Homo sapiens: one gene and its partners. The protein of the gene in region 1 purifies or fractionates together with the protein of each later gene. This does not show direct contact. Each region holds a gene or a part of one and is shown in the gene's direction. Other genes may lie near its edges. The genes, in order: DNAAF2, DPYSL5, NCALD, GPM6A, CALB2, SNAP91 and SYN2.

Region 1 (3,500 bases):
GGTTGCTCACACCTGTAATCCCAGCCCTTTGGGAGGCCAGGGCAGGTGGATAGCTTGAGGTCAGGAGTTCAAGACCAGTCTGGCCAACATGGTAAAACCCCATCTCTACCAAAAATACAAAAATTAGTCCGGCATGGTGGCAGTCGCCTGTAATCCCAGCTACTCGGTAGTCTGGGGCAGGAGAATTGCTTGAACCTGGGAGGCGGAGGTTGCAGTGAGCCGAGATTGCACCACTGCACTCCAGCCTGGGCAACAGAGTGAGACTATGTCTCAAAAAAACAAAACAAAAGAAACAAAAAAAGAAAGAAAAATACTAAAAGGTCAGGTTTAATAGACAGAAAAAGTACCAAGACCTCTTTCTTTTAGGTTCTTTTTCTATACGTTTATGTTTGTTCTCAGTACAACTCTTATTGCTCTGTACAATACCAAACTTAAATTTTTCTAAGACAGCTCATAGGAATAACATTAAAATAAACATTTTAAAAAGTGTAACCCTGAACAATGTGAGAATTTTTGTGAGCTGCTTTGAGATACAACTGTTGTCAAGTGGGACTTATTAGGCAGAATATTTTTTCCCTTTTTATTTTAGGAAAGGTTATTTGTCAATGAAGAAAATGTTAATGAGTTTCTTGAAGAGGTCCTGAGCTCTCCATTCAAACAGTCTATGTCCTTGACCCCACCATTAATTGAAGTTCTTCAAGTTACTGATAATAAGATTCAAATTAATGCAAAGGTAAGGAAGTTGATGGGCTCTATAGAGGAGTAATGAAGCACAGAGTTAAAACCTAACAAATTATTGATTTCTTAATATCATAACTTTAAACAAAATTTACATAATGGTTGGGCAGAGTGATGTTAAGAGAAGAAAAGTTTTTCTTTTTTTTTTTTTTGAGATGGAGTCTCCCTCTGTCACCCAGGCTGAAGTGCAGTAGCGCGATCTCATCTCACTGCAACCTCCGCCTCCTGGGTTCAAGCGATTCTCCTGCCTCAGCCTCCCAAGTAGCTGGGACTACAGGAGCATGCTACCATGCCTGGCTAATTTTTTGTATTTTTAGTAGAGATTGGGTGTCACCGTGTTAGCCAGGATGGTCTCGATCTCCTGACCTCATGATCCACCCGCCTCGGCCTCCCAAAGTGCTAGGATTACAGGCATGAGCCACCGCGCCCAGCCAAGAAAAGCCTTTTGTCTGTGTATGTATTATGTGCTAAACACTTTGCTATTCATTTTCACATTATTTAATCCCAAAATAACCCTACAATGAGGAACAAAGAGAAACTAACACTTAGGAAGTTTGAGTACTAGTCCAGGGACATACAATCTTTTTTGACTCTCAAACCATGAGAACTATGTTATACAATTTGTACGTTCTTTCTAATTCAATCTTAATTTTGGTCATTTTTATAGTCTTCAGTATTGAAGATGCAAATGATTTAGTAACTACCACAATCGACAGACATATGTATTAGAAGGGCGGCTCTGAAAAATTAGAGGAATTCAAGAAAATTTAAGAAATTCAACAATGTGCTTATAACTGTTAAATAGTTTTGTAGACCATGTTGAAAAGTATGGATTATTGTTGTGAAAGGATATAATCAGGATATTAGTGCCAGGTTTACATTGTTAAAAAATGACTGGCAGTAGGCTGGGTGCAGTGGCTCACACCTGTAATCCCAGCACTTTGGGAGACCGAGGCAGGCGGATCACCCGAGGTCAGGAGTTCGAGACTAGCCTGGCCAACAGTGAAACCCCGTCTGTACTAAAAATATAAAAATTAGCCGGGCGTCATGGCAGGCACCTGTAATCTCAGCTACTTGGGAGGCTGAAGCAGGAGAATCGCTTGAATCTGGGAGGCAAAGATTGCAGTAAGCCAAGATTGCGCCACTGCACTCCAGCCTGGGCGACAGAGCCAGACTCAATCTCAAAAAAAAAAAAAAAAAAAAAAAAGACTGGCAGCAGACTAGTCGTGATGGCTCATACCTGTAATCCCAGCACTTTGTGGATCATTTGAGGTCAGGAGTTCGACACCAGACTGGGCAACATGGTGAAACCCTGTGTCTACTAAAAATACAAAAATTAGCCGGGCGTGGTGGTGCATGCCTGTAATCCCCTCTACTTGGGAGGCTGAGGCAGAATTGTTTGAACCTGGAGGCAGAGGTTGTAGTCAGCTGAGATTGTGCCAGCCTGGGCGACAGAGCAAGACTCCGTCTCAAAACAAAAAAAGTCATCCTTCAAATGCTGCCTGTCTTTTTCTTTTTTTGACAGGGTCTTACCCTGTCACCCAGGCTGGAGTACAGTGGCACTATCTCGGCCCAGTGCAACCTCCACCTCCCGGGTTCAAGTGATTCTTCTGCCTCAGCCTCTCAAGTAGAGGGGATTATCAGGTGTGCTCCACCACACCCGGCTAATTTTTGTGTTTTTAGTAGAGATGGGGTTTCGCCATGTTGGCCAAGCTGGTCTCGAACTCCTGACCTCAAGTGATCTGCCTGCCTTGGCATCCCAAAGTGCTGGGATTACAGGCATGAGCCACTGTGCCCAGCCTGGAGGATGAATTTTGACAGGAAAGCCTGGATGTATACCTGCAGGTCTGTAAGGGCTATTACCTCACAACTGTTAAAAATTTTATTTCCAGAGGGTAGTACAATTTAATTTTGTATTATTTAAAATAATTATTAATTTGTTGTTTCTCTTGACACAGTTGCAAGAATGTAGTAACTCTGATCAGCTACAAGGAAAGGAGGAAAGAGTAAATGAAGAAAGTCATCTAACTGAAAAGGAATATATAGAACATTGTAACACCCCTACAACTGATTCTGATTCATCTATAGCAGTTAAAGCACTACAAATAGATAGCTTTGGTTTAGTTACATGCTTTCAACAAGAGTCTCTTGATGTTTCTCAAATGATACTTGGAAAATCTCAGCAACCTGAGTCAAAAATGCAATCTGAATTTATAAAAGAAAAAAGTGCTACTTGTTCAAATGAGGAAAAAGATAACTTAAACGAGTCAGTAATAACTGAAGAGAAAGAAACAGATGGAGATCACCTATCTTCATTACTGAACAAAACTACGGTTCACAATATACCTGGATTCGACAGCATAAAAGAAACCAATATGCAGGATGGTAGTGTGCAGGTCATTAAAGATCATGTGACCAATTGTGCATTCAGTTTTCAGAATTCTTTGCTATATGATTTGGATTAATTCTATATAATTTTGGACTTTTAAATATTAAGGTTAAAAAATACCTGTATCTAAAATTGATTCTGTTAACTGTTGTCTTAAAACTAAAGGTATTAAAGTATAAAATTAAAATTTGCAATTTTTTTTAAAAAATTGCAATTTTGATTCTCATGGGGGAAATTGGAGATAATTTTTTTTTTTTTGCCTCTGGAGTTTAAAGTTTCCTTATGGAGATAAGTTTTGTGATTCCTGTAATAGATGTGTATGTTTTCTATTTGAGAGTTAAAACATTTGAGAGTTAAAACATTTAGTTTTAAT
Region 2 (3,500 bases), on another chromosome or scaffold:
CCCGGGGATATAGCAAAACCTAACGTAACTAAACAAAAAAAACCCCAATTATTTCATGTTGTCAGGAAGCTTACCTTAAAAGAATAGCTCGGCCTGGCGTGGTGGCTCACGCCTGTAATCCCAGCACTTTGGGAGGTCGAGGTGGATCACCTGAGGTCAGGAGTTCGAGACCAGCCTGACCAACATGGTGAAACCCCGTCTCTAGTGAACATCATTTTTATTGGCTTCCATTAAAGATCTTCTGCAGCGTACTTAACCAACACCATTTTTTGTGTAAAAAGTCATGAGCATTCAGCAATCACATGTTCTTAAACATCATCCTTTTGAAAGCCTCGGGAACACAATTGGGCTGTGCCTTGCTGCCGATTTCTACAAGGCTGTTTTGTGGGGGATGACACTAAAAAGGTCTGTCACATCTGTGATACCACTTTCCTGTGAAAACAGAGCTTGTCAGCATTCATCCTGTGGGTTGGAATGGTACATATTCAAAAAGCCAACTCTATGTATGTCTTGCCTAAGAGGAAACAAGTGCTTGAACATCAGTGTGTGGTGTGGGCTTGCGAGCCTGCAGCTGGGGGAGAGTTTGCTGATCCAGTGAAACTCTTGTTTCGAGGCCTTGGGGTAACAGCGGTAATAATTATTCCAGATACTTATGTGCATGCCCCTCCCAGCTCATAGATGCTCTCACATCCATTGCCACCTGACCCTCTGGGGACCCCTGAGAAGTAAGGTGCAGGTCAGGGGGCACGTGGCTGCTCCTAGATTACAACCAACACGTGGGAAAGTCAAGACCACCTCCTATGCTTCCAACTCCTTCCTGAACTATTTTCAGTTCCTGTCCTTAGACCCAGGCAAAAGGGGCCTCTTCCCAGGGCTCTGGACTTTAGGGTCCTCTTCGGGCCCTCCAACAACTTGTACCCCTGCCCCATAGGTCTGGGGATTGTGTCTACCCAGACCCCACTCACCCATTCCTAAACTACACTCTGGGTCCCTAGAATTCCCTGAGAAACAGCCCTGAGCATTCCAGAGCCTACAAAACCCCGAATCTCTCCTCCTGGGGGACAGACCACCAATGTGTGCATACCAGGCTCAAGGACAGCATTTTTGCAGAAGGTGGACAGAGCTTAGGTCTGCAGGCTGCAGGATCAATTCAGGATAGGCGCGTGTGGGCTGGGGGCAGGCACAGAGGCTGAGGCCAACTATCCCTGAAGTGTAGCTCAGAATTTTAAGGAACTTGAGGATTCTAAGGGCCAGGCCCTTTTGGCCTTTATGAAGATGTATTTGACAGAGTAGGAGGATAGAGTATATTCTGTGTAATGGTTTTTTAGCTTGATCTAACTTTTGAGTGTTTAGAGAATCAGCACATGATCCTCCTTTTCTCCTCTTGCCCTGGGACCCACAGTATGAGGACTGGTCCTGGCTCTTTTATCTCACTGTGCTGTTTCCAGGTTCCTCTTTTCCTATCCAAGCCTGCAGAGGTACTGTGGGAGTGCAAAGGAAAGCAATCTAGAGCCACAGAAAAATGAAACAATTTAGTGTGTAAAGCTCAATATACACCCCCACGTGCACATGTAAAAGCAAGAGATGCATTTCAGGACAAAATAGAGTACAACCACCTGCTGTGAGGATGAATCAGCCTGGCACGATCCAGCAAAATCGGAAATAGAAGCCTGCTAGTAAAGCTACAATCTGCACTGCTCTCCTTCTCCCGGTTCCTCTGCCGCCCCCATCACAGCTCCTGCAGGTGCCACAGAACTACCACCCTCTGTTGGTTGCTTTAAGCTGTGCAAGCAGTCAAACCACTGAGTTCCCCAGGACGACTGGGAACATTCTCGCTGGCCCAGCCTGCGTCATGGAACATCAAGGTTGTGAGAGTTTTCATTTTAATTGCTGTTGGGCCACTGAGCTAATTTTTTTTCAGTCCCTTATTCCCCAGCAATATTTTTCATTTGTGATCAAGGATTTAACTGAATAGAGAAGCATGAAACCATTAAGACAATTTCATGGAGCTCTTTTTCTCCCCTACAGAAAACAGATAAACACCTAAATTCTGGCTGGGTGCAGTGGTTCATGCCTGCAGTCCCAGCACTTTGCGAGGCCAAGGTGGGAGGATCACTTGAGCCCAGGAGTTTGAGGCTGCAGTGTGCTATGATTGCACCACTGTACTCCAGCCTGGGCAACAGAGTGAGACCCAGTCTCAAACAAAAACAAAAACCTAAGTTCTGAGTAACTAAACACACATGTTAGGACAACACTTTTACCACATCTGTTCCATAAGCAATGTTTTACTTAACCTTCACAACTACCCAACAAGGAAGCCACCCTATTGTGTAGGTAAAGACTTTGCATCCAGAGAAGTTAAGTAACCTGGCAGAGGTTATTCCAACCATGAGGGAGCAGAGCAGGGACTTGAACGTGGAGCCGTGAAGCACTGTAAGGACTCAAACCATTTCTCACCAGAAAAAGAGTCACTTTGTCTTAGAGCCCTCACAAAGACTCTCATGTTATGGGACTCTCAATTATTTAATTTAATTAATTTATTTATTTTGAGACAGTTTCACCCTTGTTGCCCAGGCTGGAGTGCAATGCCGCATTCTTGGCTCACTGCGACCTCCACCTCCCAGGTTCAAGCAATTCTCCTGCCTCAGCCTCCCAAGTAGTTGTGATTACAGGCACCCACCATCACACCCAGCTAATTTCTGTATTTTTGTAGAGACGGGGCTTCACCATGTTGGCCAGGCTCATCTTGAACTCTTGACCTCAAGTGATCCACCCACCTCAGCCTCCCAAAGTACTAGGATTACAGGTGTGAGCCACTGCACCCACTCTCACTTATTTTAATTCTATTTTAAGTTTTGTTTGGGAACAACACATTAGCCTGAAATAGCCTTTGATCGATGCTAGTTTTGGAACTTCACAGAAGTCCCCTGATGAAATTCACTTTTAAAAAGTTGAGTGGGGGAATCTCTAATACAGATTTAGTCATTTTTCCTGGGGGTTCACTCTATGATTGCGAGTGAGGCTTTTTAACAATTTCTTTTTAAAGTGGTATCTTGCGGAGTTGTGAATAGGATCCGTTTTCACTGATAAATCACACATGCATCTAAAAAATGCCTGTCTCAAACAAGATAGATGAAAATGAAGCCCCTATGCTTAGAAAAACTGAAGACAAAGACCCTGAGGTTGAAGATGCGTGCAAAATGTTTGAACAAAATTGCTTCATGAAATTTGAGAGCATAAAACAAAACAATATATCCAAATTAACATTTTCTATATCGTGGTTCAAATATACGTGTGTAACTAAGTAAATGATATAAACAGACATTTGATTATGCCATCAATATTATGTTATTATATGATACAACACTATATTATGTTATATATTACATGCAGACATTTGATCATGTTATCTATAGAGTCAATTGGCTAAAAATCGTTTGGGGAGAGAATCTCCTCATTGGGAAGATAGGCCTTAGGTCGGGTGACCCACGATGTGGTTT
Region 3 (3,500 bases), on another chromosome or scaffold:
ATTGCCCCTCCCTTTGAACCTAAATGGGCTTATGATTGGTCCAACTGATAGAGTACAGTGGAAATAATGCTAGGTGACTTCCAAGGATAGATCATAAAAAGAATACAATTTTTTTCTCTCTTGCTATTCTTTTTCTTCTTGACATTTTCCCTTAGAATCCAGTCACCATATTGTAGGAAACCCAGACCACATAGAGAGGCCAAGAGTAGGTATTTCAGCCAACATCTCTTGCTAAAGTCTCAGCCGACATCCAGCATCAACTGGCAGGCATGTGAGTGAGCAAGCTGTCAGATGACTCCAGGCCCGGTCATCAGGTCTTCCTTCCCCCTCCTGATGCCAGGGAATCACAGATGCACTATCCCTGCTGAGCTCTGCCCCAGGTTGCAGTTTCATGGACAAAATAAAAGTTGTTACTGTTTTAAGCCCGTAAGATTTGGGGTGTGGGGGGGTAATTTCTTAGGCAATCAGAGTAACTGGGACATTTGGGTAATTAGAAATGAGTGAAATGCCTGTGTAGAGGGCTAAACTTCAGGTACATATGGATTATTAAATAGACTTTTGTGATTTGGCCTAACCTAACCTAATTTCTGGAGGAAAATATATTTCTGTTACCAACCAAATTACAAATGAGCTTTTGGAAATTTGGAACAATGTCCTACAGGTTAATGCTGTTGCTGGTTCTAGGAAAAGATTTGGGCTACACTGAGGCCAGACTGCATGCCTTAGCAAGATCTCGCTCATTGGCCCCCACTGACTGGGACCCTCCCTGCAGGAGAGTGCAGTGTGGATGGCAGTACTCGTATCATCTGTCCTAGACCATCATAGGACATGCTCAGTCCTCCTTGTCCACTTTGTCTCCCTCTCCCATACCTACTCTGTCTAAATTGCTGCCTACTTTTCTATTGTTAGAAACTGCTGTATCTTTGACACTATTTTGGCCCATTTCCTATGCTTCTAGGGCAATGTTTTCTGCTCTACTGGTTTGTAGTAAAGCTAGGGTATTCTCCTTAGCCAGGTAAAATTTAGCTAATTCAACAAAATCTTATGCCTCTTAACAAAATTGCCAAAATGGCAGCTGTCCCATTGGTCTGTGGCTCCATGTGTTGGTCAAATCTAGCATTTGAAATCCTCAGAAATGTGGTCCTTGTGTCCTTACTCAAAGAGGCATCCCTTTCCCTTCTGCTGTAGAGAAATCAATGCCCCAACTCTCTTCTCACTTACTTAAACTTCACCCCATCCTAATAGTCTACTCCTCTTCCCTTAAGAAGACTCTCATTCATTTATTCATTCAGCATTTGTTAACTCTGTACAGTGAGCCCTAGAGTTAAGTGCCTATGAAAATATTCCTTTCATGTCCAAGGACTGCTAAGGTTTCTCCAGCTGTTCCTCATTTGCTTACCATAGACACAGGGCAGATGTGGTGCAATCACCCAGACTTTTCAATAACCGGGATATATCCCATCTCATCCAAGATATTTCAGCTAAGTAGGATACTGCATGAGTAATATAGGACCAGCCAGTCTTTGAAAAGGTAACAGTCTAGTTAGGAAGGCTGGATGGCATCTGCATTTGAGGGCCAGAGCTACGTCTTCCACACTGGCTACAACTTCCCACAGTGCCCAGCATCATGCAGGACATACAGTGCCTCCTCTTTACATCTCTGTTAGGTGATTAGTGAACAGATTAACCCCAGAGGATATATGGCATTGAGATGACTTTGGAGAGGAAGTGAGCTTTGAGTTGGGCCTAAAGGATAGAGAGCGTCTGGCATGAGGAGCAAAAGTGAAAGGATAATCCTTCATTGAGAAGCATGATGAGAACATTCTAGTGACAGAAATAGGACACCTCCCCACCTGGAGTCAAGAACATGGTTGGGAAAAGGAAAAAATATATAATCTATATGGTGGGTCCATGGAGGATCTAGGATTTATCCACTTAAGCTGGATTTGATCTGATAGACACTAGGAAGCTGGGGAAAGCTGGGAGCAGGGAAGTGATGTACATGTTAAGTGGGGTGAGAATATTTTAGTGACTCTGTTTCTTTACACAGCTCATTTAAATCCCTGAATATGTGCTAAGTATTTTTGTCCATTTTTCTCATAGAAAAGTTTTAACTTCTTAAATTTTAAGAAATGTGAATTATCTTTTGCCCTCCGTAGGTGTGAGTAGCCATTTTAACTTTAGCTGGGTTATATCCGTAGGCAAAGCTGTGTAACTTCATAGTTTTAAACATATAACCTATTACTCATCAAAGTCATACTCATATAAGTTCCAAACCAAATGAACAAGTCAAGCCTTTAAAACATTTTCTATAAAACTATACTATAATGAGTATACAATGAAAATTTATATAAATATATATTATATGTATATTTATATATATATAAAACATACAATATATATATACTGAAACCCCTGAGACACTGCACATTATTCTGAAAAATCTTTGAATCATGTCACCAATGAAAAATTAGGTTGTGTTCAGTGAAATTTTAGTTGTAAGTTATGAGTGCATTGCATTACATTACACCTGAAATCTTTGAATACTGATCATCAATATAAGTGTCTGGCAACTATCAGAATGTTCTTAACCAGAGCATGCCATCTTTAAGAAAAATATTATAAATTATACATGCAAAAAAGTGTATATAACATATATGTACAATACAAAGAATAATAGAAAACAAATCCCTGGGTAGCCAACAAAAACACCATCTGTTAATCATTCTAGTGAAGAGTAATGCGTTGATATTGATGATAATTTCACTCTAGTAGCACACAGATTAGTACTGTCCCTAAGGTCCAACACCAGAAGAAATTGAATCGGTGATATGTTTTTTAACTATTTGATCACATAAAGATTTTAAACCAGTTGAGTCATTTATTTCAGTCTCTGATGGTGAATGAAAGGTATGTTTTCCACTTACAAAACATCACTTGCTATTGCTGCTGGCAATTGTGAAGGTTTGTAAATTGGTTTTTGTGTCGAGAGGCCTTTGCCCCAAGGCCATTGCCCATGTTGTGCTCCTTGTCACCTCCCAGCTATTCAGGAGGGAATGGTGAGGGAACCCTTGGTGAGCCCTGAGCTCTTGGTACAAGATCTGTATACTTAAGTTATTTAAAATGAATATTAATAGAAGACTAACATAAGACTATCTGAGTATATTACTAGGACTAGAAAGTCTCCCAGGTTGAATGGGACAACGTGGTACCAACCTTGGTACAAGCCCAACTGCCAGGGGTAGTTAAAGCAAACCATTCTCTCTCTCAGGGTATATATATATATTTTGGTATATTCAGAATATATTTCACAAAATAGAAGCTATTTAACCATTAAAGATGCAATCTTTGGTCCAAATTCCACTTTGCAAAAGAAATTGTCATTAGATCTGTTTGTGCCCACCTTGAAAAATGTTGATCAACTTCCAATTTTTAAAGGTCGATCTGTTACTATTTAGAAATAGAACTCTCTTTCTCCTCAGACTGTCAAAACAGCCTAC
Region 4 (3,500 bases), on another chromosome or scaffold:
TCAGAGAAAAAAGGAAGAATGACTGTCGGCTTTTAAATGATGTGTATTAAGAGATGTCAACATGTTAGAACATTAACTGCTGTATATATCCAGATTGATTTCCCAAAGAAAGAAAGACACTTTCTTACATTGTTTCAATTGTTTAATGTTTTTGGACTTAAATTTTTATCATATGAGAAATGATGAGTTTTACTTTACTTACCTCCATCAAAGAGAGGAATTGGATGAAATCTATCCCTGAGAATGATGCTAGAAACATAAAAGAGATTGTTCATATTGTCTCCTAAAAGGGGATGGTCATGCTTTTTCTTGGTTATCAAGTAAAAGTGAGGCAATTAAAGTATTTTGCTAATTAGCATTCTTCATTGATTTATAATAGAACTTTCAATGTCTGGGAAACTATTTTCTACATTTTTATGGTTGCAATTAATATTCCCCATTAGAAAGGTTATTTGAATGGTGAATTACCTATTCTTTCTTAACAAAAATAAAATATGGGAGAAAAACTTTACACCTGTATTTATTCCGATTGTTGTTTTATGCAACAAAGTTTAGTTAATAATTCAAATAAAGAACTAGTACACGGCCAAATTACCTTCCCCCCAAAACTTGACAGCTTTTTTTTTTGAAAAAAAAATTTTTTGAGATTCTTCTACACATTTCCTGTGTTGGTGGATATCCACTTTCATTTTGTTTTTGTTTTGTTTTGTTTTTGTTTTTTTGAGATGGAGTCTCGCTCATCGCCCAGGCTGGAGTGCAGTGGGCTATCTTGGCTCACTGCAAGCTCGACCTCCCAGGTTCACGCCATTCTCCTGCCTCAGCCTCCCGAATAGCTGGGACTACAGGCGCCCGCCACCACACCCAGCTAATTTTTTGTGTTTTTAGTAGAGACAGCATTTCACTGTGTTAGCCAGGATGGTCTCGATCTCCTGACCTCGTGATCCGCCCGCCTCTGCCTCCCAAAGTGCTGGGATTACAGGCGTGAGCCACCGAGCCCGGCCCACTTTCATTTTTAACAGCCTATACCATATCAGTTTTTCTGTTCAGTTTCGTTATTGAACATCAGAAACATAATTAAGTACTTTTACTAGCATGATTTATTTGTCAAGGAAAATATTAATAATAATAGCTAATATTTAATAATCCAGGCACTGTTCTAAGCATTTCATATGCAGTGTCTAATGTCAATATATCTTAACACTAGTTAATAAATATTGATTACAGCTTTTTAATAAATATCAAATGTTCTTTGACTTTACGGTCACACTATTTAGTCAAGGGCCATTGGGTTCAAACTCTACAGGAAACTAAGAGAAAACCTCACACAAACATCCAGAGAAAAAAAGAATTGTCATGTAACAAAATGAGGTAGTCTTCCATTTCAGTTCCAAGAAAGATTATGAGGTGGGCAGAAGGGAGAATGAGCCAAATGATTTCTCCATTTTTCTAGTTAAAAATTTATTTTTCCCACAATAAGGGCATTTAAATTCAAATTTTTGGAACCACAGACTGTACATTTGAGTGGCAGTAAGGAATTATATTTATTTTTCTTCAAACACCTTTCAATATTTCAATATTCAATAATAGAATTCATTATTAAAATAAGGATTGAGCAATGTTTGAACAATGGAACTCTTAGATATGACACTGAATGTGGTTTGTCAATTTAAAACCAACCATAGGCTTTGAGAATCTCTGTTTTAAATAGTACCAATGTATTACCAAAGCCAGATTCATTTAGTGGTTTATTGTCTCAGAGACGTTATTTTAGTTTTTCATCAAGTTAAAAAAAAAAACCATTTTACAGTGAAAAGAATGCTTTGAATATTAGTCAGAATAATTGAACTTAAAGCATTTTAAATCTCTGCTCAACCTTTCACAGTAGAAAGTTGTAATTGAGTCATAAGATCTAGAATTCAGAAACCACCCACTCAGATTGTCTCCATGAATTTTAAATATGTATAAGGGCCAGGAGTTTTTCAATTGACCATCATAATGAGTGGCCAATTGACTTTTGGTTTCCCAATCAGATGACCTGTGTTAAAGCCCTGGCTCCTTTTCTCCACCTTCATTTTCTCTGTAACTTAATCTGTGTTATTCAACCATATTTTTTTCAAAATCTCCATTTTGAGAATTAATTTTCTCTACCATTATCTTTGGGTTTAGGTCTGTTTAATGTGAGTTAGATGTAATAAAGACTAGGTAAAAGCGCCTATTACAATTCCTGGAACATACTAGGAGTTGAGTAAATGCAGATTCCTTCTCCATGTTTCCTTTCCTCTCATCTTAACACACTGTGCCCATTTAAAAAGGTGACCAAGCAATTTTCCTTGAGTCAGAGAGTCAGAATTAAAGGACTAATAACTTTTTCGAATTGTTGTAACAGTTATTTCTTAAATGTTTGTCACTTACTATATGGCATATCTTACTGTTTTTTCTTATGTATGTGTTATGCTGTAGCTCCATTCTCAAAGTACAAATTCCTGAAGGGTAAAGTTTTTATCGTTTGTTCATGAACCCAACCTGCAAAGTGCTCTGAATACAAACCCATTCATAGCTGATGATGATGATGATGATGATGATGATGATGATGATGATGAAACGAGAACAGGAGGAGAAAGAGAAGGAAGAGGGGAGGGGAAGAAAAAGAAGAGGATAAAGAGGAAGAAGAAGAGGTCAATTGTGCAGACTAAAGAAAGAATAAAACACAATTTTTCCCCTAAATAGAGACAGATCTAACAGAGCAGCTAAACCTGGCTTGGGAGAATGCAGCAAGGACTCCATTTTATGTCATTAGATTTGAATTAAAAATAATTCTTTTATTCTTTGACCTGAAATATATTCAGTAGTTTGGTAGCAGCTTTCTTGAAAATGAATAGATTTTCTTTTTTTATTATTAAAGAGCCCACACATATTTTTAGCATTGTGATTCTGGCAATGAAGTCAAATACATTAAACTGTCAGATTCAGCAAATGGTTACTGAAACTTGGAAAATTATGTCATAATATTTTATAATACGCTGTTAAAATTTAACAAAGTAGTTTACAAATTTGCTGACACTAGGCTTACTGTGTTCATTCATAAGTATTGATCAAAGAAAACAAAATTACATAAGAAATAACAGTTTGAAATCATTGAGGACAGTTTAATAAGATAAGACCTTTTCTAGGATATGTTTAGTAATGTTCAAGGTAATGAATTTAAAAAATAGCATGCAATGAGTAATCAATTTTCTTTTGCCTTCTTTTACGCTTTATTTTAGTTTTTGTATTTTAATTGGTATATAGTCTCACACAATTGGCTTATATTTTAGATGGGATCAAGACAGTATCTGAAAACAGGGCATTTGAGCTCTGGTCAATGGTATCGGAAGAGTATTTCCATCTAACCTTTCAATGCTCATCATATTCTCTCTACAATTTTGGTGTACTAAGTTTTTTGATGTATTAATCACTAATTTGTGTTTTGAGATGAACTTGTGATACCATTATTTGGTGGA
Region 5 (3,500 bases), on another chromosome or scaffold:
CCATTCCAAAACAGAAAAAGCCACCATCACCCTAAAGAGTTGGATTATTTTCAAAATTCTTATTAGCTTTGTGGTAGAGAAAGGAAGAAGTGTATGTTTGGAGAGTGAGAAACTAGGACTCAAAGAGGCAAAATTCTTTTCACAAGATCACACAGCAAAGCAGGAAGAGGTGAAGGGGGAACCAGGAATCTGGTCTCCTAGTCCGCAATACCACTCCACCAACTCTGCCTCAGCAGTCAGCCAAGAGCATGCGTTTGGGAGGGTTCCAATGTTGTCTCTCAAAGGCTGAGGTAGGGAAGATGACAGCCAAGCCCACCCAGTGACCCTGGTGGGGTCTAGGGCTCTTCCGAACATCACCTCCATGCTCCGAGTGGCCCTGACGTGGCCTTACGTATCTGAGCCCATTGCTCTGTTGCTTCCTGGACACTTCTGTATCAGGACCTTTCCCCCTCTAAAGGATCCAGGTGGCTGAGGGATGCCCAGTTCAGAGTTCACACTGTCCTTTATTTATGGTTCTGATTAGACAGGCCACCGGGCTCCTATTTTACTGACCATCTGCGAGCAGCAAAGTTGTGGCTCCAAAGAGAAATGCCTTAGCTTTTGCTACCCCTTTGAAAGCAACTAAGAATGTAAAGATAAGATGAGTTCTCTTCCAGGGGCAAGCAGACATTCATGGGGCCAAGGTGAACATCCTACTCCCTTCCAAGAATCTAGCCTACATAGATATACTCGTATGTGCGCAGAAAGTTATATGAACAAACATGTCTATTACAGTGTTCTTCGGAAATACTAACAATTTCAGTGGGTGGAGGGGAGAATGTGCTTCACTGGGGGACAGAAAAATAAATATGGTCATCCCTATGATGGAGTATGATAGAGCGAAGTGAAGCTTTTGTAGTGACATGGAAAAATGTCCAAGATGTATTATTAAGATATTGTTTAAAACTGTAGCTGAACACTATTATAAGCCCGTTTTTATTATGAATGATATATGTATGTTGCAGGATATTTAGAAAAATACAACTGAATAATAGCGGCTCTCTCTGAAGAGTGGATGAGCCAAATGAAAGGGGATTTTCTTTTACTTTCTAAGTTAATTTCCATAGCACTTGAAAATTTTACAAGAGCATCTATTTCCTGTGTAGTCAGCAAAACAATAAAGATATAAGAAGGGAGGCCAGGCACAGTGGCTCAGGCCTATAATCCCAGCACCTTGGGAGGCCAAGGCAGGAAGATCACTTGAAGCCAGGAGTTCGAGACCAGCTTGGGCAATACAGTGAGACCCCCCCTCCCCCTACTACAAATTTAAAAATTAAGCAGGTGTGGTGGCGCACGCCTGTAGTCCCAGCTACTTGAGAGGCTGAGGCAGGAAGATGGCTTGAGCCCAGGTAGTCCAAGCCTGCAGTGAGCTATGATTGCACCACTGCACTCCAGCCTGGGCAACAGAGCCAGACCCTATCTTTAAAAAAATAACTAACTAAATAAATAAAGATATAAGAAGAAAACAATGTGATAGACACCTTTTCTTCCCTTGTAAGAAATATGTATATGTCTCCAGGTGGGGGGATCTGCCTATACTCTTCTGGGCTTCTGTCCACCTCCAAGTGGCCCAGGTGACGTAGGGGGTGCTCAAAGCCTCTCACAGGGACTGAGTCCTGTTCCTTATCTATGTGGACCCTGAGGATTTTGAAAATAACAACAGAGGCCACAAAGGGCTGAGGATGGCTCTACGCAGGCTCCCATCCTCGCCCTCTGAAACCCAGTGACCTGGCAGAAGTCTTCTCCAAGCCCACACAACACTGAGGACCACTCAGGGCCAGACTGCAGTGCCCAGGCAGGCTCTTCCAGGGCACGGGTCACTGCTCATTTGTTTGTCCCTGGTTTAGGGAATGGGGAGGAAATTTAGAACAGCAGCACCTCTCAGAGATGAACGGGAACCTGGGCAACTGGCCCTGGGCGGCTGCATGAGAGGTCCTGCAATACCAAAGTGAAACACATGCTGAAATAGGGTCACAAAATATGTGATGTATATTAAGTGTTTATATAAATGACACAACAGTTACAATGCTATAAGGTAATCATAGGATTTATCAAAACGATTGGGTCTTGGCCCATTAAAATCAACAGGGTCCGACACTGGGAACCAAGATTAAAGTTGTCAGAGGAGCGCTTTCTCTGAACCCTGTTAGTGAACCTCTGGGGGTCTGTATACCTCTCAGCTGGGCGTGGCGTGATGTCAGGATATGAGGCTCTCAGGGAACAGCCGCCTGACCCATCTGGGGTAGGCCCTGGAAAATGTCCCCCACCCCTGCCTCTGCTCCCTCCCCCAACTCCCCAGTTTTTTCACTAACAGCGTCCTTGGGTTGTGGAGTGTCCACGTGCAGCAGCTCTACGCTGGGTACCTCCAGGTGGGCTCTTGCCTGCTATGGCTCTGCTTCTCAGACTCTGATTGCACCAGCCGGCAGCGGGGAGCAGCTGGTCTGTGAAGAGCTGGGGCTCCCCGGGGGAGCCCGCCTAAGGGACCCGTTTCACAAACAAGATGCCAGCCCTGCATTGCCTTGATATTGACAGCCAGGCCGGCTGTCCCTGCCCTGCTCAGCTTGTATATTCCCCTCCAGACTTCAGCAGCTTTACCAGCCAAGCCCCTGAGGGAGGTTTCCAGGGCTAAGGAGACCCCTCAGGGAAATCAATTCCAAAACCAAAGGAGCTAGAATTAATAGAGCAGGCCTGAGGCTCTTCAAGAACAGTGCCTCTCCAGCCCCAGCCTGCCGGCGGATTGCATCCCAGGCCCTCCTTTGCCAAGCCGGCCCATCTGGGGCCTCTGGCTTCAGCCCTCCCTCTGTCCTTGTTGGCTCTTCACTATCTCCCCTCTCACCCAATCTGCCCTATCCTTCTGGCCTCCCTCATGCCTGGGACTCAGCCCAGCATTAGGCTGCCAGATGTCCACAGGTTCAGGGGACCCAGCCCAGCTCCAGAACCACGGGTCCAAAGCAGCACAGCCCAGAAACATAGATTGAAATTCAAGTGCCCAAACATTCAGCTGGTGGCTGGTAGCTCTTCACTCTGGGGCTTATTCTTTTTTCCAGAAGCCACTGGAAGAAGCGTGTGTGTGTGTGTCAGAGAGAGAAGCCAGGACAAATGCAGATATGGACAGACATTGTCCCTGGGACAAATAGAAGGAGGCCAGGACCTCTGTCAGCTGTGGCTGAATCTCCTTCCCCCTCCGATTCCTCCTTTCTAAGATGGGGTTGATAACTGCTTACCTGGCAGGGTCGTAAAGAACAGATGAGGTGGGAAGTGGAAAGCTTTTTGGGAATGGTGCGCACCAAGCAAAGCAGGATTAATACTGGGGCAGAGCCTGGGGAAGCCAATTTCTTACCCCAAAGGGTAGGATTTGACTGTCCCAGAGGGTGCTCCAGATGGAGGTTAGAGGACTGTTTGCCTTCGATAAATCTGAACTCCAGATAGACCGACAAGCGGCCTGGCCTCCTGGATGCCTT
Region 6 (4,033 bases), on another chromosome or scaffold:
AATAGAATTGCGTTTTTATTTCCCTTGTAAATATGGTAAGACTAGTACTTGAGACAATAGTGCTCTTAAGCTGTCTCTCTTTAGTCATTAAGCTTCCAATTAGTCCTAGAATCAGTCTCAGTAGTTAGGAAATCATGACTGCATACTGAACACTGTACCAGGTGAAAGAGAGGAATATATAACAAAACGTTGAGATCGATAGGTATCGATATATGGCTTCAAGGCCGAGCAGAAGCCACCCGAAGCAAGGAGAAAAAATGCCAGGAAAGCTCACAAATATAGTTTTGATCTTCATGCTACTGTGAGAATTAAAAAAAAAGGTGAACATAAATAACAACCTTTGAAAATGTCAACACGTGAAGCTATTAACCAACTCCACATCCCTGTTTAGAAATTCCTGCTTACTATTCGAATATACACTTGACATACAATTGACGGACGTTCCAACACTATATTTAATTGGCAGAAATTACTTCTTAAGGGTACAAAGGGTTTTCTTTATGCACGCAAATGATTACTGTCGAAGGTAATCTGGGACTCGATTAACGGCTGTGTTAATTATTCTCCCTTCAGCAGACCTCAGTATCCGTTTAAGACTAAAGTGGCTAGAATTACCTGCCCACCCGGGCTCCCAGTTGTAACTGAGACAAGCGGAGGAGCCTGAGGAGCTGAAGACGCACAGGTGACGGTCGCGGATGGCCGGCAGGATCTGACATTTAAAATCGCCCTGCTCATCTGGGCCTCGGAGCCTTTGACAGGCGGGCGTGTCAGCGACAGTGTGGGGAAGGGGCTGGGCTCCGCCAGGCAGCGCGCGACGACGCCCTTGCCTTGGCCTTCACAGAGTAGAACCCGAGAAGCCCACTCGCCCGTCTTGGCCAACGCCCCCAACGCCCAGGGCTCCCCCCGCAGTCGGCGGGCAGGTGTGCGTGGTGCGCGAGCCCAGTGCGTGCCGGGTGCGGCGCCAGCAGCGGAGGGGCGGCCCGGCGCCCAGCGGAGAGCCGCTGGCTGGGTGGGTGTCGGCCTCCCCGCCTCCTTCTTCTCCCCGCCGGCTTGCCGGGGATGCTTGCGCGAGGCGCCCCCTCGCCTTTAAGCTCCCGGCCCCGGGGGGCGGTGTGTGTGAGTAGCTGGGAGGGGGCCGCGAGGCGCTCCGCCGAGGGCTCGTCCGGGTTTGTCCGCCGCCGTCACCTGACTCGTCGGAGGAGCCACAGCTGAGGTGGGGGCGGGGATGGGGACGCAGCTCGGAGCGCTAGAGAGACGCGGCGGCGCTGGCAGAAGAGGCGGCGGCGGGCGGGTACTGGCTTCTGGGGCCAGGGGCCAGGGGCGGTGGGCGCCGGGACCGCGGAGCTGAGGAGCGGGGCCCGGCCAGGGCTGGAGACTTTGCGCCCGGGGGCACCGGGGCTACGCGCGGTCGCACACATCCACCGGCGCGGCTTCCCTCGGCGGCCCGGGCTCCGCTCATCCTGCGGCGGGCGGCGCCGCTCAGGGGCGGGGTGAGTACCCGCGGCCGTACTCGGCCCCCTCCCCGCGCCAGGGTCTCGCGGGGATCCGCAGAGGATAATCCCAGGGTGCGGAGAAGGGCAGCGGCCGAGTGACAGCTCCGCGGAGCGCTCCAGGGCGGGCGGGGGACTGGGCTTCGCTGTCAGCCCGGCTCCTCTCCAAAGCCAGGAAGGGTGAGGCGCCCCAAGACTCCGGCGCCTCCGCAGAGCTCCCGGGCGGCCCCTGCGGCAGGGATTTGGAACCGGGGGGAAGGGGCCCGGGCGATGGGCCTCGGCGAGGCTTTGGAGCCGGCGGCGAGGAAGGAAGGGGAGGCGAGGGCATAACATGGCGCAACGCTAGGATAATCTCCTTCGCGACTGAGGGAGGACGAGCCCTTTGCTGCAGCAGCGCGAGGAGGAGGAGGGAGGCAGCCAGGGCTTGGGTATCCGATGCATTCCCCGAAGCCTGCGGGCTGCTAGGAGGAAAGTCTGCTGAGGTGGGAGATGGGCACCGGTGGGTGCGGCGCCCAGGGAATAACCCCAACGCACGTTGTGGCTAGTCCAGCACCCGCGGGTCAGGTTGCGGGGAAAGTGCTGATTGACAGGGGGGTCCCCAGGGGGTGAGTCTGGCCCTATGTGGGGGCCGGGGGAGAATGGGGACGGTGTCACGATGCTGCGACTGGAGCCCACGCTGGGGTTCCGTGACGGCCCTACTCACGGCCAAGACTCCCTGGACCGCATCGCAGGAGCGGGGCTTGGCGCGTTGCTGGCTCCGAGAGGTGGTGCCAGGGTGGGGATGGAGGAGGAGAGAGCCGCCGCGCGGCTGGAGGAGGCAAGGCCTGGGTGCTTGGAGGGTAGGGTCTGCGGATTAAAGCCGGACCGTCTCCCCTTGTTTCCTGCAGAAGAGGAGGCGGTAGACGCGACCACAGAAGATGTCGGGCCAAACGCTCACGGATCGGATCGCCGCCGCTCAGTACAGCGTTACAGGCTCTGCTGTAGCAAGAGCGGTCTGCAAAGCCACTACTCATGAAGTAATGGGCCCCAAGAAAAAGCACCTGGACTGTAAGCATCTCTTTATATAAGAGGGACATGCGCACGGCAGAGGCGCCTGGGATGCTGGTGGTGCGGCCTGCGCTCTTGGTCCATAATGCTGTGGCCTCTGATACTCCCAGCCAGGTTGCCCCTGAGCTGAAATTCTTCAGCTGTGAAGGTGTTCCCTTGGGTTAGCCATGAAACCTTGTCTTGTGAGCCATTTTTTCCTCTTATTGACCTCCAAGGTCTTGGTGGAGGGGGAAAAATACACACACACACACACACACACACGCATATGTATATACACACACACAAGAGAGAGATTGTACACACTGAATTAGATGTTTTTCACCTTTTTTTCTTTCTCCACCCACCCTCCCTTCTCCAAATTAGAGGAAATTAGAGGTTGCACAGTCAAAAAAAAAAAAGATGAATTTATGGAAGGTCAAACTTGTCACCCTAGTTCTTTCCTAAATACATTTCAGATAGTTCTAAGGTAGTATAATCTTTTTAAGTGTTGCTCCTGAGGATTGTTTTTGTGAGTATGGGTGTGTGTGTGTGTGTGTGAGGTATGTTACCATACCAAACTGAAATAAATTCAAGGTACTGAATGAGGAAATTGGACTTCATAGCTATGGCAATTTCATTTTACACATCCTGGCACACTTTGTCCCATTCTCAGAAAATGCTGGGTGAGATGACTATGCTATGGTCACAAAATGGATGTACTTCCCCAGCATCTGAGATGGTGCAATTTTAGATGAAACCGTTTAATTCTTAATATTATTTTTGTAACTGGTTATTTGATGGAAAAGGCTTTATTCTACTCTGGAATCTATATATTTCTGAAATACCTTAATTAACAGTAAATCTTTTGTCACCGAAGGATAAACAGAGGCACTTAGAAAAGAAAAAGGCTTTCACCTGCTTTGGGTGGTGAGGTTTCTCATAAGTCAGGCTATATGAGTGTATGTTCAGCAGTTGCTATTTAGTTCTCTTGACCTGCTTAGGATCTTCTGTTCTATTGTGATGTTTTTGGTAAAGGTGAATGTTGGCATGAGAGACACAGGTATGGCCACAGCCATTTCCTCAGCTGGCTTCCTTTGCCCATCTTCTGGGTTTTTTTGGTCTTGGGTCTTTTTCCTGCTATTTCCTTTGTGCAGCTAAGAAAATGGCACCAGTGTCAGAATTCACTCTAGCCCTATTATCTGCATAAGCGAAGCTTGATGAAGCTTACAACTGGACATTGTAAGAGTTGTCCAGCCTTGTGAACCTGTTGTCTCATAGAATTGAATAATTTTGTTTCTAGAAGCTCATCGGAGGGGAAAGTACCATTATGCCTTTCCCAAGGGAATGTTTAACTAAATTTATTGATTACAGCATTATATGTTATATATGCAGTACAGGATGAAAGAGGCCACCAGGGCCAGGGCACCTAAGAGAAGTAGAAATTGTAAATTTGTGACCAGATCACTTTGCTGCAGCATGCTGAATCATTTAGCCATTTTCCCATCAGTTTCCCCAAC
Region 7 (3,500 bases), on another chromosome or scaffold:
GGCTAATCCTGTGATGCCTGCTGTGTATATTTCCTCATCAATGATGGGAATTGGGACTTGTGGCTAAATCTATGTGGGAATCTAAAACAAAAGATGACAATGCCACCTGATAAGCTTGCAGAAGTTCTTACAAGATTTACAGGTGTACACATAGTGGGAGTGCCACTAAACACACAGAAAAACCAAGATACAACTCTGTCTTGAGGCTACTGCATTTAACCATGACTTCACTCTAGGTGGTGGATATGATCCTGAAAAAGCTGTGTATATTGAGTTTTTGTAAATTGAATAATTTCAAAAACAGTGGGGCACTCACTATTTAAATGAATTGTGGAAAATCTTTTGCAAGAGAAATTGCCTTTTTTATAAGAAAAAAATTGTTACCTAATTTTTTTTAGCTTCCCACATAGAAGCAATTGGGTATCATAAAGCTACAATATCTCTTTAGAGAAAGGAGAGGATGATCTAGAAGGCTTTTCTGTTCTGCAGACACTGCTTCAATACAGCAGGAAGACGTAGTTTTTAGTAGGGCAGTGACCTGTGGAGAGAATAAAGTGAGCAGATACCACAGGTGCCTGAACTCTAAGGATGTCCATGCTGCATGACTAAGAATAGGAGGATGTATATGGGCCTTGGTGTTTGTTGCTTGACAGCAGGCATTTCAGAAATTTTAACCAGTTCATGTAAGATTGTAAAATAGATTAGATTCAGTCACCCTGCCCTTCTTTCCTTTTCAGCAGCATGAAACAATGTGAGATACAGGATTGAGGGTCAAAAGACTTCGAATTGAGATCTGGCTCCACTGTTAGCCTTATGGCCTTATCAGGTTTACATAATCTCCTTGAGCCTTTCTCCCATCTATTTGACAGATTTCCGCTGGAGGTCTACTATATATCAGGCACTGTTCAAGGTTCTAGAATAACAGACAAAAATTAGTTTCATTACCTGTAAAGTGGAGATAACATTATGTATTTCTGATACCACTGTTGTGATAATTAAATAAAATAAGGTACCATAAAAGCATTTTGTAAAAGCTAAAGAGCCATACTAGTAGTTAGTGTTACATCTTTCCCTGTTTCCAGCCGCAGGTATCTGATCTACCTTGGTTCCTTTTTTGAGTTCCCAAAATTTTGTTATGTAAGTGATTGTTTATTTTGCACACTTCTGGGATGAGGAATCTTCTTTTTGTTGTTGTTATTTAGTTGAGGGCCACCGACTCAAGACAATATCATCAAAGGCTTTCTTTTGTGTTTTTCAAAAGGCAATATAACTTAGTTTTTTTTTTTAATGACAAAAACATTACCCATTAACTCAGCTATATTTAATAATTAGGGGCAGAACCACATAAATCTTAATTTTATTTAATAAGTGAATTCTAAAATAGCTCTCCTTCAGTTTTACTTGTAACTAATTAAGGAAGGATGGCTACAGAGGAAAATGAAGGAAGAGAGAAATACACAGAAGGCCTTTAAAAGGTAGTGCTTGTATTTGTTTCCCTATCCAATCAAAGCCTAGAACATTGCTTTCAGAATATTTTTAAGCAAAACAAAAGCATTCACGGATCTTAGAAAGTTAGCTTCTTTCTTAACATTCTTCCCTAACACGTAGTTGCTCATTGTGCTTATTCACAGTTTGCCTCCAGCTTTTCAGACTCATTTCTCACTGTCCCCTCAATCCTGAATTTTGCTGTACTCTGGATTACCCTCTCCCTGCACACATGCTGGACTTTTAAGACCTGGTGCTATTATTGCACAGCTGCCTTTGTTTGGAATGCTCTTGTCCTGGTTCTCTTACCTTAACGTTGATTTTCTTTATTTCATTCTCCGAGGATAAAGGCATTGCCTATTGTTGAAAAAGACTCATCTCTTGTCTTCTGCATGACCTTGCTTAAGATTTCATCTCTCTTTTTCCTTCTGTTCATATTCTCATTTTCTACTGATTGCTCTTTCTATGGGTTGCTCCATTCTTGTAAATAAAGTAACAAATGAAAAACTCATCCTCACCTTCCTAATCACTCTTCCAAACATGAAAGATAAATCTCACTCGTTACTTATCCAGTTATTTGCCCTTTTCCACTGACACTGGCCTTCTGCCTTCTCTGTAATATTGATACTGTTCTTGCTAGGGAACCTAATTGCTAAATCCAGAGGAAGGTGTCAAATGTTCACTGATGTGTTTGACACTGTATATCTTCCCTTTGGAAGTCGCTTGGCTTCAGGACACTGCATTCTTTGTTCCTTTTTAAAATTTTTAAATAGTTTTGTAAAGACAAGATCTTGCTATGTTGCCTAGGCTAGTCCCGAAGTCTTGGCCCCAAGTGATCCTCCTGCCTCAGCCTCCCAAAGTGTCAAGATTACAGGCATGAGCCACCACCCCCAGCCTCTTTGTTCTCTTCATACTTGTTTTATCGAAGTTTCTTTTCACTCTTCTTGTTCTTTCCCTTTGTCTACCTCATTAAATGTAGATGTTCCTCCGGGCCCCCTTTTCCTGCCCACTTCTTTTTTTATACTGCATATTCTCCCTGGTCCATCTACTCTCAAGGTGTCAGTTACCTCTTAAGTACAATCAGTTCCCTAATCATTACCTTTAGTCCAAAACTTTGTCCTCATCTTTAGACATATGTGCAGCTGCCTGCTGGACATCTCCATCTGGGTGGTTAAGAGTCGTTTGATCCAATATTGAAATCCATGTTTTTCCTTCCTATTCCAGCTCTTCTATTCTGTATTTTAAGTGGGACACCGATGGTCACCTATTTCAAGTTCTCATTAACTTTCACCTAGAACTTCTGCAAGTCTCATCATGATTTCCATTTAGTAACCTGAATGAACTATTTAAAATGCAAATTTGACCTTTTTACTCCTTTGCTTAAAGTTTTTCAGGAGCTTCTTACATCCTATAGGTAGTTTATGGCCCTCCTGTGATTTGACCCCTGCTTTCTTCTCCTGCCGTCTCTAATTATTTCCATGTCCAGACTTCCTTTTCCAGCAATACTGAACTGTTTGCACTTCCATACACACATTGTTGCATTCCTCCTCCTTGTCTTTACTGTCTGCTACTACAGTTTCCCTTCCTCCCCTTTCCTTTTCTTGATTAAATTCATATTCATCTTTTGAGACTGAGTATTTCCTTTTCCAGAAACTCTTCTCTAACTCTCTAGATTGTATTGAGCGTCTATGCCCCCTCCATGCCCTCTTTCAATACTGCAAGTATCTTTATCTCTGGACACAACACAATGGTCTGTTTATGTGTCTGCTTCCCCACTAGATAGTGGGTTCTCTGAGGACAGACAGGCTGAATGTTTCATTCCTTTTTGCATCCTTAGCATCCAGCATAGGGCTTGACACATAGATTGAGGACAGTAAATCTTTGCCATATTGAATTGAGCAGCAAGAGAGTCAAAGGATGAGATAAGGGATAGAAGGTAACAATGAAGAGAGGGAAGTATCCTAGGATTAGAAGTATATGTTAATATGTTGGAAGTCATCCTTACTGTCTTCAAA

What was found.
Region 2: the proteins of DNAAF2 (region 1) and DPYSL5 purify together in Homo sapiens (affinity purification with mass spectrometry; 3 studies listed by BioGRID and IntAct, with this or other methods). This does not show direct contact.
Region 3: the proteins of DNAAF2 (region 1) and NCALD purify together in Homo sapiens (affinity purification with mass spectrometry; 3 studies listed by BioGRID and IntAct, with this or other methods). This does not show direct contact.
Region 4: the proteins of DNAAF2 (region 1) and GPM6A purify together in Homo sapiens (affinity purification with mass spectrometry; 3 studies listed by BioGRID and IntAct, with this or other methods). This does not show direct contact.
Region 5: the proteins of DNAAF2 (region 1) and CALB2 purify together in Homo sapiens (affinity purification with mass spectrometry; 3 studies listed by BioGRID and IntAct, with this or other methods). This does not show direct contact.
Region 6: the proteins of DNAAF2 (region 1) and SNAP91 purify together in Homo sapiens (affinity purification with mass spectrometry; 3 studies listed by BioGRID and IntAct, with this or other methods). This does not show direct contact.
Region 7: the proteins of DNAAF2 (region 1) and SYN2 purify together in Homo sapiens (affinity purification with mass spectrometry; 3 studies listed by BioGRID and IntAct, with this or other methods). This does not show direct contact.

Annotation. Positions count from the first base shown.
Region 1 is NC_000014.9:49,625,245-49,628,744, reverse strand, and holds part of DNAAF2 (protein kintoun), read left to right. Parts: intron 1-589; coding exon 590-733; intron 734-2,696; coding exon 2,697-3,203; 3' UTR 3,204-3,500. UniProt on the Homo sapiens protein: Required for cytoplasmic pre-assembly of axonemal dyneins, thereby playing a central role in motility in cilia and flagella.
Region 2 is NC_000002.12:26,921,132-26,924,631, forward strand, and holds part of DPYSL5 (dihydropyrimidinase-related protein 5), read left to right. Parts: intron 1-3,500. UniProt on the Homo sapiens protein: Involved in the negative regulation of dendrite outgrowth.
Region 3 is NC_000008.11:101,780,970-101,784,469, reverse strand, and holds part of NCALD (neurocalcin-delta), read left to right. Parts: intron 1-3,500. UniProt on the Homo sapiens protein: May be involved in the calcium-dependent regulation of rhodopsin phosphorylation. Binds three calcium ions.
Region 4 is NC_000004.12:175,802,265-175,805,764, reverse strand, and holds part of GPM6A (neuronal membrane glycoprotein M6-a), read left to right. Parts: intron 1-3,500. UniProt on the Homo sapiens protein: Involved in neuronal differentiation, including differentiation and migration of neuronal stem cells. Plays a role in neuronal plasticity and is involved in neurite and filopodia outgrowth, filopodia motility and probably synapse formation.
Region 5 is NC_000016.10:71,361,723-71,365,222, forward strand, and holds part of CALB2 (calretinin), read left to right. Parts: intron 1-3,500. UniProt on the Homo sapiens protein: Calcium-binding protein involved in calcium homeostasis and signal transduction. It plays a critical role in buffering intracellular calcium levels and modulating calcium-dependent signaling pathways.
Region 6 is NC_000006.12:83,706,302-83,710,334, reverse strand, and holds the start of SNAP91 (clathrin coat assembly protein AP180), read left to right. Parts: upstream 1-1,233; 5' UTR 1,234-1,490; exon of another isoform or gene 1,491-2,095; intron 2,096-2,377; 5' UTR 2,378-2,407; coding exon 2,408-2,537; intron 2,538-4,033. UniProt on the Homo sapiens protein: Adaptins are components of the adapter complexes which link clathrin to receptors in coated vesicles. Clathrin-associated protein complexes are believed to interact with the cytoplasmic tails of membrane proteins, leading to their selection and concentration.
Region 7 is NC_000003.12:12,010,888-12,014,387, forward strand, and holds part of SYN2 (synapsin-2), read left to right. Parts: intron 1-3,500. UniProt on the Homo sapiens protein: Neuronal phosphoprotein that coats synaptic vesicles, binds to the cytoskeleton, and is believed to function in the regulation of neurotransmitter release. May play a role in noradrenaline secretion by sympathetic neurons.